Regions from separate parts of the Homo sapiens genome. Here all the other regions are linked to region 1. Evidence: fine-mapped expression QTL. A gene starts in region 1. Each other region holds a variant in brackets. All regions are shown on one strand. Distances are between the middles of the regions.

Region 1 (5,000 bases):
CTAATCTGAAGTCCTGCATCTGAGGCAAAGTTGAGGCAGGGCTCGAGGGTGGGCGGAAGGGCCCAGGCCCGGAGGCCACTGACCCTTCTCACCTTGCCCAACTGCTCAGTGGAGAAACCGCAGCCCAGCGAGGCCGCCCCAACTCCTCCGTGTCCTCTTTTCTACTCTATCCTACCCTCCCTTCCCTGCCCCACCCGAGACGGTCAGGACCCTGGTGTCTGGACTTCCCGCTTTGTGTCACTCTCTAGGGTACTTGACCAAATCCTCCGTTAGACCCTCTCTTCCCGCCTCTCCCCACCACAGCAAACCAACAAAGCTTAACCCCATCATCCCCTAACCCAATAGTACCTCTGTAGGGCTGGGGCTGGGGCTGGGCTGGCGGCCTTCAGAGGGGGTCTCGGGGGGAGGCATGGTGGGCTCCTGGGGCCGGGCGGGGTCCTGCTGGGGCCTCGGAGATCGGGCGGGTGCAGGCTCCATGGACCCCAGCTTAGTTTCGATTCTCGGTTTAGATCTTGGAGTGCGTGAAGAGAAGCTGAAGGGGAGGCGTGAGCCAGTTGGCTGAGTCCCTTGAGCTGTCCGAAAGGGGAGGTGCCGGCTCAGGGCCCGCCTCTGGAGAGGAAGTGAGACAGAAGCTGGGGGCGGTTCTAGGGGGCAGAGAGGCCGACTGTGGGTTTTAAAGACACGCCCAGAGCGGGGAGGAGGTAGAGGCGGAGAGCTGCAGACCTACCGCTGACTTACGGTAAAGCGGGAGAGGTAGGGCAGAGCTGCAGGGGGGCAGCCCTGCTCCCGGCTTTGATCCATTCATCCGTTCACACTGGCACTGCTTCGTGCCACGTCCTGCCGGGAGCTGGGCGTACAAAGATGAGCCACACGCAGCCCCTGCTTTCTAAGAGCCGTAGATGTAATGGAAGAGCAAGCCTGCAAACGGAGACATTCTGGAAAGGAGAGCCCACAGCTGGGACCTGCAAAAGCAGTGGAAATTCACCAGGGATTTAGGGTTGTAGGTGGTGGGGTACGGGGGACACTTGAAACAGAAAAGATAGCTCTTGCAAAAGCCTGTTTGGGAACTAATTTTGGCCATTTTCAGATTTAAGAGGGAATTCATGAGAAATGATACCCAAGGAGTGTGCTAGGACAAGATCCTAGCTGAGGAGATTGAACCAGTTCTGTGAGTGATGGGAAGTTGCTGAAGGATTTGGAACCAGGGAACAACACGATCAGCTGTGCATGATGGGACAGTCACTCTGACAACCTAGGAGCAGGTGCCCTGGTCTAGGACAGTGGCTGTGGGATGCAGAGGAGGGACTTGATTCAGAGATCCTGGGAAGCCAGTGACTGGAGGTGAGGGAGCAGGATGATGCCTTGAGTGACAGCTGGAAAGGCTGGTGGATCTGAGGTGGTGGGGGCAGGAGGGAGGGGGAGAGCTGGAGAGCGGGTATGAAGAGGGTGAGGGGAGAGCCAGCTAGGTCTTCGCCAATGGAAAAGCATGTCAGACTCCCAGCTGGTAAGGGGAAAGGGGCACAGTTCCAGGTGACCTCACTGGGTCAGCGCCCCGGCTTCAAACTTAAACCATCGCAACCACTGTGCTGGCTCCTGTGTACCCATTCCGTACTCTGTTCCAACTTAGAAACAGACTAGAAAGGATGATGATAGGGCCTGGCTCTTGTAAACCTTACAGTCTGCAGGGTGGAGAGCAGGGGTTGGGCAGATACGCAACTTCCTAGGGACTGTAAGGCCTCAGGAGCCTGCCCTTCCCTCCAGCCTGGTCAGTACTCCCAGGCCTTTAGAGAATCAGTCCATGAAAGCCAAATATGGTGGGCAGCCATCTGCACAAGGGACCTGGAAGTGGGCTATGGCAGGATGGGGCTTCGGAGGCCAGAGGCGATTGGCTGAGGAGGCAGAGCTGGGGAAGCTTTATTCATTTCTTTGCTTGCTTTGGAAGATAGCCTGCTCCCAGACTACCCCAAAGTCCTGTTGGAAGTTAACACTTCTCAAAGGAAATTCACGAGTTGCATTCAGGTTTTCTCAAGCCCTGGAGAGGCAAGTTAATTCCAGGTACCTGGATCAAGGGGCATGCTCTTTCTGGACCTGCAGGACTGAGGGCCTCACCTCTGTGGTGCTCTGGGGCCCCTGCCCTCATGTAGCTCTGTGCTATCCCCTTCTTCCTTACACTCCCATGCTCCCCGAAGTCTGCATGTGAAACTTCTTTCTTTTTGTGCCAAAGTTCAGGCCTTCCTACTCCACCTTGATCACGGTGACCTGGCCAGGCCATTACTTAACAAATAAGTATTGAGACCTGCCCTATGCCAGTCCCTGCTTGCTGGGCTGTGGGTTCACAAAGAGGAATAATTTGCAGACTATGTCCCAGAGAAACCCAAAGTCCAGATATGGCATGTCCTGCCTCCAGTGTGAGAGAAGGAGTGCTGAGAAGGCTGATATAGCATGTCCTTGATCCTGGAGAAGATTGGCTTCCTGTAAACCCTGATGAGATCTTGCTCTCTCGCTCCGACTGCAGTGCAGTGGCACGATCATAGCTCACTGCAGCCTCAAACTCCTGGACTCAAGAGATCCTCCCGCCTCAGCCTCCCAAGTGGCTGGGACCACAGGCAGGCATCCCACGCCAGGCTAATTTTTAAAAATTTTTTGTAGAGATGGGCTCTCACTATGTTGCTCAGGATGGTCCTGAATTCCTGGCCTCAAGCGATCCTCCTGCCTGAGTCTCCCAAATTGATGGATTATAGGAGTGAGCCACCGTGCCCAGCTTCCCCTCCAGCTTTTCTAGGGCTGAGTAGGAGAAGAGGGGAGGAGGCGATGACCCCAGCGGGGTCCGAGGAACGCCGATCACACCCAGTAGCCCTGGGCTGCAGTTCGGTCCTCCCAGCGCAGGGGGAGCCATGCGACGGCGGAAGCGGGCCCCGGCCGGCCTCCTCTTCCTGCGCCCGCGCCGCCGCGGGTGGCCGCGCGGGTGAAGCCGGAAGCAGCAGCCAGGAGGGCGGGGCCGCGTAGGGCCCACTGGCCAGGGAGGGCGCCGCGCGGAGGCGCGGGGCGTGTCTCCTGTCAAAAGCCATGCTCGGCAGGTCTGGGTACCGGGCGCTGCCCCTGGGTGATTTTGACCGCTTCCAGCAGTCGAGCTTCGGCTTTCTGGGCTCGCAGAAGGGCTGCTTGTCCCCGGAGCGGGGCGGCGTGGGGACAGGGGCCGGTGAGTGGCCGCCTGGCACGGCGGAGCCGGGGGGGACCGGCCGGCAACCCCCAGGCCCGAATCTCTGCCTCCGAGGAGTCGGCCGGCCCGGTGCCGTCGCACCCTACGAGGGGGGACTGAGAAAGGGATACGATGTGGAGAGGGGGCTGGACCCGGCGCCTGGTGCTAGCGCCGATCCGCCCTCCCTAGGGTCATGGGGCTTTGGCCCCAGAGCCAGCCAGCGTTGCTCCTATCTTCCAAAACCTCACCTCACCACATTTGTCCTCGGCTCTTATCAGCCCTTTAGGCCTGGGAAGACGTTTCAGGTTTCTATTTCGCATAGAAGAAACCGAGGTCTAGGCAGAGGAGGCCACCAGCACCCTAAAGGCACCTGCTGCAGGGAAATGGAAGAATTTTCGCCCTAGGGGGCACCTCTAGAAGCCCGGGAACTAGGCATCTCCTGGATGTGCAGGCCAAAATGACAGGTCCTCAGCTGCCTGTTGGATCTGCCCTGCTTCTGTCTTGCCCTCAAAGTCTTCTGTGGCTCCTTTGGCCTACAGGCCAGATCCCACGCTGTTCAGCCTAACCGCCTAACCTTGGATTTGATCCCTCCCTGGCCTTCCTGTCCTGAAAGCTCTCCCTATCCAGAAGTCTCTTGAGAGGCCTGGTGGATCAGAGCCAGGCACAAAGTGGAGCCTCAGTGCTCTGGGGCTTAGCCCAGAGGGCAGGGCTTCCTGGAAGAATGGAGCAGGGCTCCCGACTGCTTCCTGTCCAGGGTTGGGAGGAAAGCGGCAAATAACCTCATCCCAGATTCTGGAGCTGTCTCGGCTTTGCTCCCAACTTGGGCTCCTGAATCTCCAGGGGCCAGGACATTTGGCTTGGATAAGCCTCATCTTTCTAGCCCTGCCCCTGACCCCGACCCCTAACAATTTTCTTGAATTGAAATAGGCAGGGTTTTTTTTTGTTTTTGTTTTTTGTTGTTTGTTGTTTTTTTGAGATGGAGTCTCGCTCTGTCCCCCAGGCTGGAGTGCAGTGGCGCCATCTCGTGAAATAGGCATTTTTTAATGGTCATTAAGGCATTAAAGTTGGGTGTGGAATAGAAAATAATAATCTAATTCCTCATCTGTGGCTCCCGTTGATAAGCTATTTATGATTTATCCCTGTAGGCTAAGGCATCATCTTCATAAGGACTCCTGGAAAGCACACTTCTGGGGCTGATGGTATAGGAGGAATGTGTTTTGCCAGCAGTATTCAGTGCATGTTTACAGATGCCCAGGTGCTCCTGGCTCCATGCCAGGTATGGGTAGGCAATATAAATTAAACGAGAGGATTGACCCCTACTCAGTCCAGTGAGGAGAGCATCATCACGCGGACTGGATTCTGAGATTGAATGGCTGTTGCCTAGCAGAGAATAAGGCCTTGTGAGGGTTGTTGGACTTGGGACAAATGAGTGTTGATGTATGGGAGGAGGGAACAGACCCTAACTTGCAGCTGCCCAAAGATACGGGAATATTAGGCAAGGAGCCAGATTGAGAGCCCTGAGAAGGAAGGAGCCTCTCGAGGGGAAGGTGGGCGTAAGGTACACTTGCCCAAGTTCACTCCGCTTGGCAGCTGTCGTGCAGGTCCAGTTGACCACCTCTGCTCTCACCTGCAGATGTACCCCAGAGCTGGCCCTCCTGCCTCTGTCATGGCCTCATCAGTTTCCTGGGGTTCTTGCTGCTGTTGGTCACCTTCCCCATTTCTGGCTGGTTTGCCCTGAAGGTAAGGCTGGCTGGGTCAGCCCCCAGGGTGGTTGGGCCACACTGAGAGCTTTGGCATTGAT
Region 2 (5,328 bases), 280 kb before region 1:
TTCCTAGTTTTTTTCTGTGTATATTTTGTGTATAATCACCATTCTAGCATCCTGCATTTTTCATTTGCCAGTAAAACCTAAGCAGATCCAAAGTCACAGAAAGCTCATTACCCATGACTTGAGTAACTTCAGGATATGAAGTTCATGTCCAAGTGCCCTGATTTCTTCCTTCCCATTTTTCCCTGTAATAACACTGCATTGAACGTTCTCTGCTACATATCTTCATGTCGCAAATTACTTCCTTAGTACAACTACCTAAAATGGAATTGCTGGGTTATAGGACATGTGTATTTTAGGACACCTCATTCATTATTGGTAAACTGTTTTCCTAAAGTGTTGTATCTGTGTTCACACCCATGGCTGGTGGTGTCACAGATGCCAAGTTAGACATGACCTCTGTCTGTGTCACCAGCCCCTCTCTTTCCCACACAGTTTCCCCAGCCCCTTGCAGAGGCCAAGACATCTCTGCAGACTACAGAGGCTCCGTGTGCCCGCAGTGTGGGCCAGTGGGCACTCGGGGGACTTGATGGCACCCTAGGTCAGCAGTTAGGGCACACACATGGGTATGATTTAAACAATGAAACAAGACAGTATTAACTGTAGCACTGCCCAATAAGAGAGCTATATGAAATATTCCCATGGGTGGTCAGAAAAGCCTCCTTAAAGGAAGCAGAACCAGAGAAAGGCTCTGAAGGAAGGTCTGGCTGGGTGAAGAGAGGGATAAAGGTCTTCAGGATGGGAAAACAGCACAATCAAAAATGTGGAGTGGCACTGAGCACACCCTGTGCAGAGGACGCCTGAAATGAGGAGAGACTCCAGGGGGAGGCCCAGCATCTGCCAAGGCCAGAAGGTGGGAGATGGGAGATGGCCATCGGCCCATAACTCCCAGCAGGCAGCCCTGCAGGGTCCCAGCACAGGGCGGGGCTGCGGGTCGTTGCTACAGACCCACCAAGTGGCTGCCTTGCCTCTGTTCCCCAGCCAGGGGCTGTCAGCAACAGTAGCAGCCGCTCCCACCTCCTGCTCCCCCACAGGAATCAGTCATTGCTCGAAAAGGTCAGCACAAATGCACTGCGGCTCCAGGAGTTATTGATGCAGGATCATGAAATATCAGTGTAGGTCCACTTCCCCACAGTGGCAGGGTGCTGATGACGGTCACACTAATGGGCCTGGTTTGTCCAGGCCCAGCCCAAGGCTCAGCTGTGTCTGCCCCTGCCCCTGGGGAGATGGGTTGCAGTCACTGCAGGGCTAGGGTGCCCTGGACACCTGAACAGAGACTGCAATGATGGGAACATCCCACTTCTTATGGGAGCTTGGCCAACAGGTCCGGTGAGAGAAGTTGGTTCTGACTTCTGTGGGGCTTGGGAGTGATCTTTCAAGATTGATCCCCAAACCATGTCCCTCCCAGAGTCACCCCATTCTCCTGGGTGCAGGAGGGTCCACATGGCTGGGACTGTCTGCCAGGCATTGGGGCACCTGTGACTCAGTCCCCTGCCGTCCATACCTTGCTCCTACCCTGGAAGAGGGTTATTTAGTAGACGCTAGCTGCCCTTTCTGGGACCTATTCATGTGTCTAAATGGAGCCTATGAAGCCAGAGGTGGTGAGTGGCTGCCGGCCCAATAAGGAACAGCCCTTTCCCTGAGTAGTTTCCCAGGGCAAGTCACTTAGGAAAGATCACTTCAGACCTAGGACTGGGGAGGGAGGGTCAGCCTGTCTTGTGCATGTGCAGGCAGGAGTGGTGGGAACTCAAAGTTAGAAGACCTGCAGTCTGACGCCAGAGCCCTGGTGAGGGTACTGTGGCTGATGTGTGTGCAGGATGGGGGCGGGGAGAGGCAGGCATCGCCTGCAGATGCTAATGGAAGGGCCACAGCGGTAGTGGAATTATGGAATGTCATTAACCCTCAGCTGTGATCTTCAGAAAAGCCATTAACCCCCAGCCATGGAGGCAGACCTGCTTCCCCTGGGGACAGAGCCTTCATTCCATGGCCCCTCCACGCCCACCGCCTTATTTCCCCTGGGCCCACCCACATCCACCTCTGCCTGCTCTGCCCAGGCATAGTGGCCGCCATCTGGAGGAGTAGCTGCTGGGAGCAGATGCTGGGCTGGGGTCTCTAGGGATCTAGGACCCCTTGGCTCTGGGTCTGGGTCTGCCTCAACCTTGCTGTGTGGCCTTCAAGTCCCTTCTCCTCTTTGGGACCTACTTTTCCCATCATCCCATGGGGATATGCCTCAAACTCCTCACTTTGAAAGCCTGTTGTAAGGTTAAAGGAGACAATGGATGTTTTGCTATTAAGATGTAAGTTCAACTTCACTGAACTCAGCAAATGTTGACTCTGGGGGGCTTCTCCATTCCAGATGCCTGTGGGGTGCTGTAGAGCCAGACTCTGCCCCCGACCCTGTAGCCCACCATCATCCAGGAGGATAGGGGACAGACAGACAGACAGACAGACA[GACAC/C]ACACACACAAACATGTAGAGTCCTAAGCAAGCTGTGGTTGTGGGAGCTGGGGTGTGCGAGGAGAAAGCCATGACTTCTGACCCCATTCCTCAGGGAGGACCTGAAGGACAAGGGCAGTAGGTAAGGAAGAGGAAGGCCATTCCAGACTGCGAGTGCAGCAGAGGTGGAGGCTGGAGGTGGGAAGGGGCAGTGTGGGTGTGGAGAACAGCAAGCTGTCCAGTGGGGCTGCAGAATGCCTGTATGAGCTGGAGCCATAAGCCAGGAGGCTGGAGGGCACAGGGCCTGTGGACCTGGCTGAGAGTGGGATTTGCCTTGTCGTGATAGTAACAGGGGGCCCAGGGGAAGGGCTAGGCAGGGGATGCCCTGGCTGCTCCTCAGAGAATGGATGGCAGGGGCCTGAGGGGAGGCTAGCACTAGGGCAGGGTCTGTGGGGATGGAAGGGGCCCCAGGAGAGCTTGGGGACAGGCCAGCTGTGGGGCTGAGAGAGGAGGGGATGGTGGTGGGCACACATGGCTTCCCGGAGCTCCACTCCAGCTCTGTAGGAGACCAGAACAACAGGAGCAGCCTGTTGGGCAATGGGCCCCTTCCAAGGTGCCGGGGTAGGAGTAACTTACACGGCCCACCCTATGTTGGTTCCAGCAGGCTGGACCAGGTGAAGTCCGACAGGCCATCTACCCCTTAACTCACCAGTTCAGCCTTTGCCATCATCACCAGGCTCCACTGAGGGCCACCTAGCCCACCACCATGCCCCTCCTTGCCTCATCACCAGCAGATGGCCCTTGGGTTCGGGTGGCTCCGCCTCCATAACCTTCCACATTTATACCAGCAAGGCAGAGCCACACCCCTCCTTAGTGATTGGCTCAGGGAAGTGCATGTAACCCAATCCTGGCTAATCAGACAGGAAGGAGGTCTGCTGAGGGATGGCTGGGTAAGGTTGGTTTCCAGTTGCTCTTTAAAACCACCTACAAGAAGAGAGGGTGCTGCTGGGTGCGGTGCCTCAGGCCTGTAATTCCAGCACTTTGGGAGGCCAAGGTGGGCGTATCGCCAGAGGTCGGGAGTTCAAGATCAGCCTGGTTAACATGGTTGAACCCTATCTCTACTAAATATACAAAATTAGCTGGGCATGGTGGCGCTCGCCTGTAATCCCAGATACTCGGGAGGCTGAGGCAGGAGAATTGCTTGAACCCAGGAGGCAGAGGTTGCAGTGTGAGCCAGGATTGCGCCACTGCACTCCAGCCTGGGGGACAGAGACTTGGTCGCAAAAAAAAAAAGAGAGGCTGCCTCTTATCTGCTGGTCTTTCATTCTATTTGGATGAAGTGCCCCCATGAGCCGTTAGCCAGCTGAAGATGGTAATTCGGGGTGTTGGAAAGATCCTGAGACCTCGAGGATGCTTCTGAGCCTGAGCATCCACCAATTCTGGCAGCATTCTATGTCGTGAGTTGATGTGGTGTGTGACAATAAATATCCTTAGTATTTAAGCCGATCCAAGTTGGGGTTTCTGTTACTTGGAGCCAGATGTGAAAAGGGCAGTGGTGAGGCTGGCCTCAGAGGGGACACTGGCACTAGGGGAGGTACAGCTCTGTTAAGAGTGGAACCCATTTACCTTGGACCCTGGGCCTGGACACTTTGCAAAGATTATCCTTTGAGTTCTCCTAACAGATTGGAATCAATGAGTCTGGAGAAAGGAGCAGCTTACCAAAGGTCATGCAGCCAGTAAGTTACAGAGCTGGGGTCAAACCCAGGTCAAACAGTGCTTTTGCACAGTGACAGTTGGTGAGAAATCACAGCCCCCCAAGATGTCAGAGAGGGCAGGCCCTAAAATTACCAAGTCCAATCCCACCCCCTCAAGTGTAGAGATGAGGGGACTGACGCTCAAAGGGAACAGGGCAGGGGTCTGTGTGAAGACTGAGCTCACGCTGCTGACTGGTGCCCCTCCAGGTATGGCTCTGCCCGGGCAATCCCCACCCCTCCTTACCACAGCAGCCTGCTCCTGTTCTCTCACTGCTGCACCTGGGCACCTCTGTGCCAGCTGCCAGCAAATTCCCAACCTGGCCCAGCTGCCATGGGGTTGGGTGATGTTCAACAGGTGTCCTGCCATTGCTGGACCGGGTCCCACACATGCAAAAGGCACTGGGAACAAGTCTCTGTAGTGAGTGGCACCTCTCCTACCCAGACTAGTTAGGCAGCAAAGGCAGCCAGAGAAAGCCTGGGGGTGGGAGGGGGCACACTCATTAAAGCAGGCAGTGCCTCTTGCCCCTTGGGACAGCCTGCTGATTGGTTCTTAATTTTCTGGGCAAATGCAGGGCCATGTGTGAGGTAACTCTAGGGAAATCAGGCAAAGGATTGGTTTGGGTTTGAAGCCTCTGTCCCCAGGGTCCCCCTTTGTCCCACTCCTCCCCACCACCATCACTCTACCCCATGTCTGAGCCTTCTTCAAATGTCTTTGCCTTTAAATGAAGCCTGGGCTCCAAAGGGGTGTCTTGTTCTATTTTTGCTATGCCAGACATAAGCACTGGTGGGCAGACAATAGGAGGGACCTCCAAAAATCCCTCTGTCCCCCAAGGCCCCTAGGAATGTTGGGACCATCGTGTAGGGCAAGCTGGCAGTGAAGCGCAGATCATGAGAAGAGACCAATCTGGCTATTCCCCTGAACCCAGCCATGTTCTGTGCGTGCACCCGCCCCCAACCTCATACTCAAACACACAGCCCTCCTGTCTGCCCTGACATGGGTCATAGCCTGCCTGTCTCCACCTCACACTTGTGCTATTGCTGTGTCCAACCTGTACCAACCCTTCCTCTGTTAAAAATTCAAGACTGCCGGCTGAGTGCAGTGGCTCATGCCTGTAATTCCAGCACTTTGGGAGGCCGAGGTG
Region 3 (5,328 bases), 87 kb after region 1:
GAGGGCTGCAGGGAGGACCGCAGTCAGCAGAGGGCGCCAAAGCCTCTCAACACAAGCATGGCCCAGGCCTGGCCCAGAAGGAGAGCGCTGAGAGCCAGGACTGGCGGGCTACGTGCGCCCTGTGGATTCCCCCATTTCCCATGCTTCATCCAGCCATGGGCCTGCAGTGCACTCACAAATGTGCATATACCCTCCTGTGTGTGTGTTACACTCATCAAATTGTCTCTGAATTTGCTTGGCTTCATGTGTTCCTGTGTGTGTTTATGTGTGTGTGTGGTGTGTCTGGTGTATCTGGTTCCCCAGGAAGCACATTTGACAGCCCCACAGTCAGGGTCAGGGCACAGGGACAGATACTGTGTCTATAACAATCCATAACACTGATTTTGTTCATCTCAATAAATGTGAGAATGAAATAAAAATTAATGTAGAATATTTTGTACATCTCAATAAAGCCACTTTCTGGGGGCAGGCATTATAATTCTAGCCTCTGTTCTACTGTTTGATAGGTAAAGAATAACTTTCCACATAGGGAGAGGAATGGACAGCTACCCAGCCCTCCCACTGTTACAGGCCTGGGCTAGAAGCTTTCCATCTAGGCTCCTGGTTGACCGTACTAGCAGTCCTGTGAGCCAGGCAATAGTAGTCCCATTGTACAGATGAAGACAGTGAGGCTCAGGGAAGTTAGAAAACAATTTCACGTCTATACCCCAACAAATTGAGACTATACAGTAAGTGTGTTACACTTGAAAAAAATCTTTCTTAAAAGTAAAAGAGAAAGAAAACAGCTTTGGAACTTTTTAGGGGTAAGAGATTACAAAATGTGGGAATGGAACATGTGAGTGAGGATGGATGGAAGAGGCCATCAGCAGAGGACCCAAGGGGTTGAGAAGCAAGTTCTTATTCAGCTTGCAAGTGACAGAAGCCCAACTCACATTAGCCTGAGCAAAAATGAGAATTTATTGGAAAGATCTTAGAGCATCTCCCAGAATCTAAGTAAGAGCTCAATAATTGAGCCAGCAGAGGATCACACAGCTAGGAAGTGGTCAAGCTAAGATTTGGTTCCTGTCTCTCCAATTTCAAAGTCTATGCCCGTTTCACACTTTCTAAAGCTGCCCTCTCAAATTTGTGTTTTCCTTCCATGCAGACCCCACCAAAGATGAACTTGAGAGCAGCCCGGTGAAGTATCAGGAGCAGCAGCTGCTCATGGCTAGAACAACTGAGCTGAGAAATTCATGTTGACAGACAGTTTGTGGCTGATTTCTACGAGTCAAAGAATAAGGAACTATATTTAGCTGCTTGCTCTGGGCTAGTTAGCTGGTGGGGAGTGAGGGCTCAGACTGGGGGAAAAAAAGAGGAGGAGGAGCAGGAGGAGGAAGAGGAAGAAGAGGAAGAGGAGGAGAAGGAGGAGGAGGAAATGAGAGAGAAAGAGAGATGCCCAGTTGTCTGCTGTCTGGCCTGGGGTCCTTACCCTCAGAGTTGGGTCTCTGCAGCAAGCTTTGCATGGAATTGTGGTTGGTGGGGCCTCTTTATAAAGTTAAGACCTGCCCATATTACTAGGCTGGTGGGACAGAGAACAAGAGCCTGAAGAGGTGAATCTTCCAGGCTTGCAGATCTCTTCTCTACACACATGACATCGGTGAATGAGTCATTCTACACTTGGGGGTTCTGGAGCTCTGTAAACCAACACTCAGCACAACTCAGATCCAAAAAATAGTACTCAGCACTGCACATACATTCTTGATGGCATAGGGGTTAGCTTTGTCCCTTTGATTGACTTGACCTCAGTCTTCTCCTCCTCCTGGGTCAGGAAAGCCCTTTTCTTCCTCTCAAGGGAAAATCGAGGCACTTGCCCTGGATGGACTTGGGCTTGGATTTCCCAAACAAGCTGCTTCCCAGAGGAAGAGAGAGGCAAGAACCTGCCTCCTCCTCCCACAGATATCTGAGCTCTGCCAGGCCTGCCTTCCTCCTCCGTGTACCTTGTCCTCTCCACATGTAACCAGTGGGGCTGGTCCCTCATCCTTCTTTCCAAACTGCCACCACCCTCTCCACTCCAGATTCCATTCACTCAAAGACATCAGGGAGCAAGGTTGAGTATACTGACAATTTGGGTGGGAAGATTCAGAAGATGGTCTCATACCCCACGGAGACACATGAAATCCTTCTTCCATAGTTCTCTCCAGCCTCTCCCCGACCTCCTCCCACATACGTCTCCCACTTCCCTAGCCCCTCCTGTCCCTAATTTGCCTACCCAGCTCCTTCAAGATGGCAGCACAAAGGGTCACCTGTGACCAGAACTCAGCTTCCTGGGAAGGCAGTGGAGAGTATAAATTTATGGAGACAAAACTTTTCTCTATTTAGAAGTAGCACAACAAACTTTCTGGGACTCTTGAGTGTGAGCAGCTTAGAAAAACGGGACATGAAACTGAAGCCCAGCAGACATGCCCATCCCATCCACCCTGCTGGTGACCAGGAGCCAGTCCCTTGCTGAGAGCCTGGGTTTCCTTGACCGACACCGAGTGATACCTGAGTTCTCCCAATGTTCAGGCAGGAGCTCTTTGTTCCAGACTGTGCTGTCTTGATGGGGAGGCACAATGATCCCTGGGACAGA[G/A]GCCAGGGAAGGGCCCTGGAATTCCCAGCTTGGTCCTATGCTGCTCAGTTGACTCTCCCAAACCTCCAAGCCAACTGATTCTGCTCTGCCCCTTTAGGGAGGCTCCCAGCTGGGCCCTGGAGCAAATGCTGTAAACCCACAAATCTGCTCAGGGTTTTATCCCACCTGGGGGCCACAGATTGGTGGGAGAATGGGAGGTGAATAAAGGCAGTGGTGGCTCTTTAAAGAAAAAAAATGCCCTGGTTTGTAGCAGTTGCCAATTTCCATGGTGTAAATACTCCCACCACAGCCAATTTCAAGCTATCAACATGATGTCACTGAATGCAGAATTAAGAAAAGGTGTGAAAATTTCTTTTTTTTCCAGCAAGCTGACTTCAGCACACCACTGGACAAGGTAAAGTGCCTGAATCCGGGGACTCTAATCTAAAGGTTGTACTGAATTCAGCCAGGTAGAGCCAAGAAACAGACTGCTGAGTCGGCACATCCCTTTCTCAGGTTGATTTAAGAAGGGAGAATAACTCAAGGGAGCATTATGAGGGAATTTCAGAAACAATCAGATCATTTAGCAATTGAATTGTCTAAATATTTTTTCCTAATTTAAAGTTGCGTGTCATGTGAGTAATTGGACAATGCATTATTGAATTACTGAGGGATTTAATGCCTAAATTGGAGAAGCAATCAAACATTCACATCTTCAAGTAGTTGATGGACACCTAAGGAGGTATTCACATGATGGCTGGGGCTAGAGGGCGTGGGAGGCCTTGTCCTAAGTGGGCCCTGAGCCTCTCTTGCAAGCTGCCTCATGCACCGTGGGCCCCAGCTAGGCCTGGGCTGCACCCTCCTGGGCCCCCTCTGCTGCTACGGTCTTTGTTTGTCACTCTCCAGTTTGTGTTTTTGTCGCTAAATTCTTCTATTTTTGCCCTTGGCTTCCTCCACTCTGTCATTTCTTCCCAGTCTCAAGCTGTCTCTCGCTCTCTGTTTCTGCCTCTGTCTCTATTTGCTGTCTCACTCTGTCTTCCTCCCTCCATCTGTGTGTTTTGTTTTGTCTGTGTCTCCATGTCTCTCTTACTCTTCTCTCCGTGTCTCTTCCTTGCTGTCTCTCTCCATTTCTTTTGGAGTCTCTCTCTTTTCTACACACACATCCCTGGCCTTTGTCCCCCAGTCCCATGAGCTCCTCTCGTCCCTCCTTTGGTTTCCACTTCACCCAGCTGCACTCTGACCCCTGGCTCCACATCTATCTTGGCACCATGCTGCCAGTCAACACCCCTTCCCCCAAGCTGATTCTGCCCTGCCTCAGACCTGGGACCTGTACTATGAACCCATAGACATACTCAGGATTATGGCACATGGCGGGAGGGGAGGCCATGGTCACTCTTTGAAGAAAATGAAACCCCTGATTTGTAGCAATTGCCAATTTCTGTGGTGTAAATACTCTTGCCATAGCCGATTTCAGACAACCCGCATAATGCCACTGAATGCAGAATTGGAAGAGGTGCACAAGTTTCATTCTTTTGAGCCAGTGCAAGCTGACTTCAGCACACCACTAGGCAAGAAGGGGCTTCCTGCATGCCTGCGGGGGCTGGGGAGAGTGCACACATGGCTGGCTACAGAGCAGCCCACTGTAGCCTTATAGAGCTCGACTTTGGGCCAACAGCCCACTCCAACCTGGTTAGTTCTTCCTTGTGGCTGACTCATAGAAGTGCTCACCTTAGGATGGGGCAGGAAGCCCAAGGACTCACTGACCTCTAGACTTAGAAGGAAGACTTCCTAGATGAAATGCCTGGGCTAAGTCACAAAGCAGATGAGAAATTTTGTGTTGCCAGAGTATATATATATATATTTTTTTGAGACGGAGTCTCGCTCTGTTGCCCAGGCTGGAGTGCAGTGGCGTGATCTCAGCTCACTGCAACCTCCACCTCCCAGGTTCAAGTGATTCTCCTGCTTCAGCCTCTTGTGTAGCTAGGACTACAGGCATACACCACCACACCCAGCTAACTTTTTTTATTTTTAGTAGAGAAGGGGTTTCACCATGTTGGCCAGGCCAGTCTCGAACTCCTCACCTCAAGCCCCTCGGCCTCCCAAAGTGCTGGGATTACAGGCAAGAGCCACCGTGCCCAGCCCAGAATATACATTTGAGGCTGGAAAAGGTAAGAGTTGGTGTCAAAGAGGCAGACCGAGGGCAGGATCACTGAGGTCTTGAATACTGAGTGAAGGGGCCTGGTCTTTTCTTATTGGCATTGAGGAGAGTACCATGATTGAATATGTTGCCTTAGGTTGGTTCCCTGCCCCCACTAAACAGGCCTTCTGACAAGGATTTGGGTGTAGTTGTTTGTTTGGAAGATGATCCCAGGCAGCATGTGAGGGAGTAGGGAAGTGAGACAGGGAAGAGAAAAAGGTAGATAAGAGTTACCCAGCAGCTACTGCTGTGGAACACTGAGGTTCAGCCCCCTGTGGACCCTCTGAGTGTACAGAACAGGTCTCAGACTTGTCCCATTGAGGGGTGGGAAATCTGGGGTGTGTATCCACCAGCTCCCCGCCCTTCCTTCAAGGGCTGCTCCTGGGGTGTGAATCCCCCTGATATTCCATGTGGGCCAGTTTTGGTCCAAGGCCAGATAGTTCTCTCATGAAGAGATGCAGAAGCCGGAGGCATGGGTGCCAGGACAGGAGGCGGCAGCAGCCTGTTATGGTAAGGACTGAGTGGTGTCCTGTGGACTGGGCAG

Alleles and levels. Positions count from the first base shown, and alleles are read on the strand shown. Sizes are in standard deviations (SD) of each study's normalised expression. Not every link is listed here.
As copies of GACAC replace C in region 2, the expression in subcutaneous fat of the gene that starts at base 2,995 in region 1 goes down (large effect, 1.5 SD a copy in FUSION).

What was found. PIP is the estimated chance that this variant, and not a neighbour inherited with it, causes the effect. A credible set is the group of variants that fine-mapping cannot tell apart.
Region 2: its variant is the best candidate, but not a certain one, in a credible set for the expression of STOML1 in subcutaneous fat (FUSION, PIP 0.74).
Region 3: its variant is the best candidate, but not a certain one, in a credible set for the expression of STOML1 in whole blood (Lepik 2017, PIP 0.56).

The regions. Positions count from the first base shown.
Region 1 is chr15:73,990,290-73,995,289 of GRCh38, reverse strand. STOML1 (stomatin like 1) reads left to right here and starts at 2,995. Exons shown (of 7, transcript NM_004809.5): 1 at 2,995-3,199; 2 at 4,833-4,939. The coding sequence starts at 3,067. PML (PML nuclear body scaffold) reads right to left here and starts at 574. Exons shown (of 9, transcript NM_033238.3): 1 at 349-574. The coding sequence starts at 477. RefSeq lists enhancers at 1-161, 3,459-3,528, 3,589-3,718 and a silencer at 2,769-3,328.
Region 2 is chr15:74,274,076-74,279,403 of GRCh38, reverse strand. The region is part of intron 7 of CCDC33 (coiled-coil domain containing 33); the gene reads right to left. Among named protein-coding and RNA genes, the nearest start is that of CCDC33, 40 kb to the right of the region's middle. RefSeq lists enhancers at 1,262-1,986, 1,987-2,711. The variant GACAC/C (reference allele first, on the strand shown) is at 2,450.
Region 3 is chr15:73,903,174-73,908,501 of GRCh38, reverse strand. It overlaps a transcript of TBC1D21 not described here. Among named protein-coding and RNA genes, the nearest start is that of LOXL1, 21 kb to the left of the region's middle. RefSeq lists a silencer at 1-118. The variant G/A (reference allele first, on the strand shown) is at 2,609.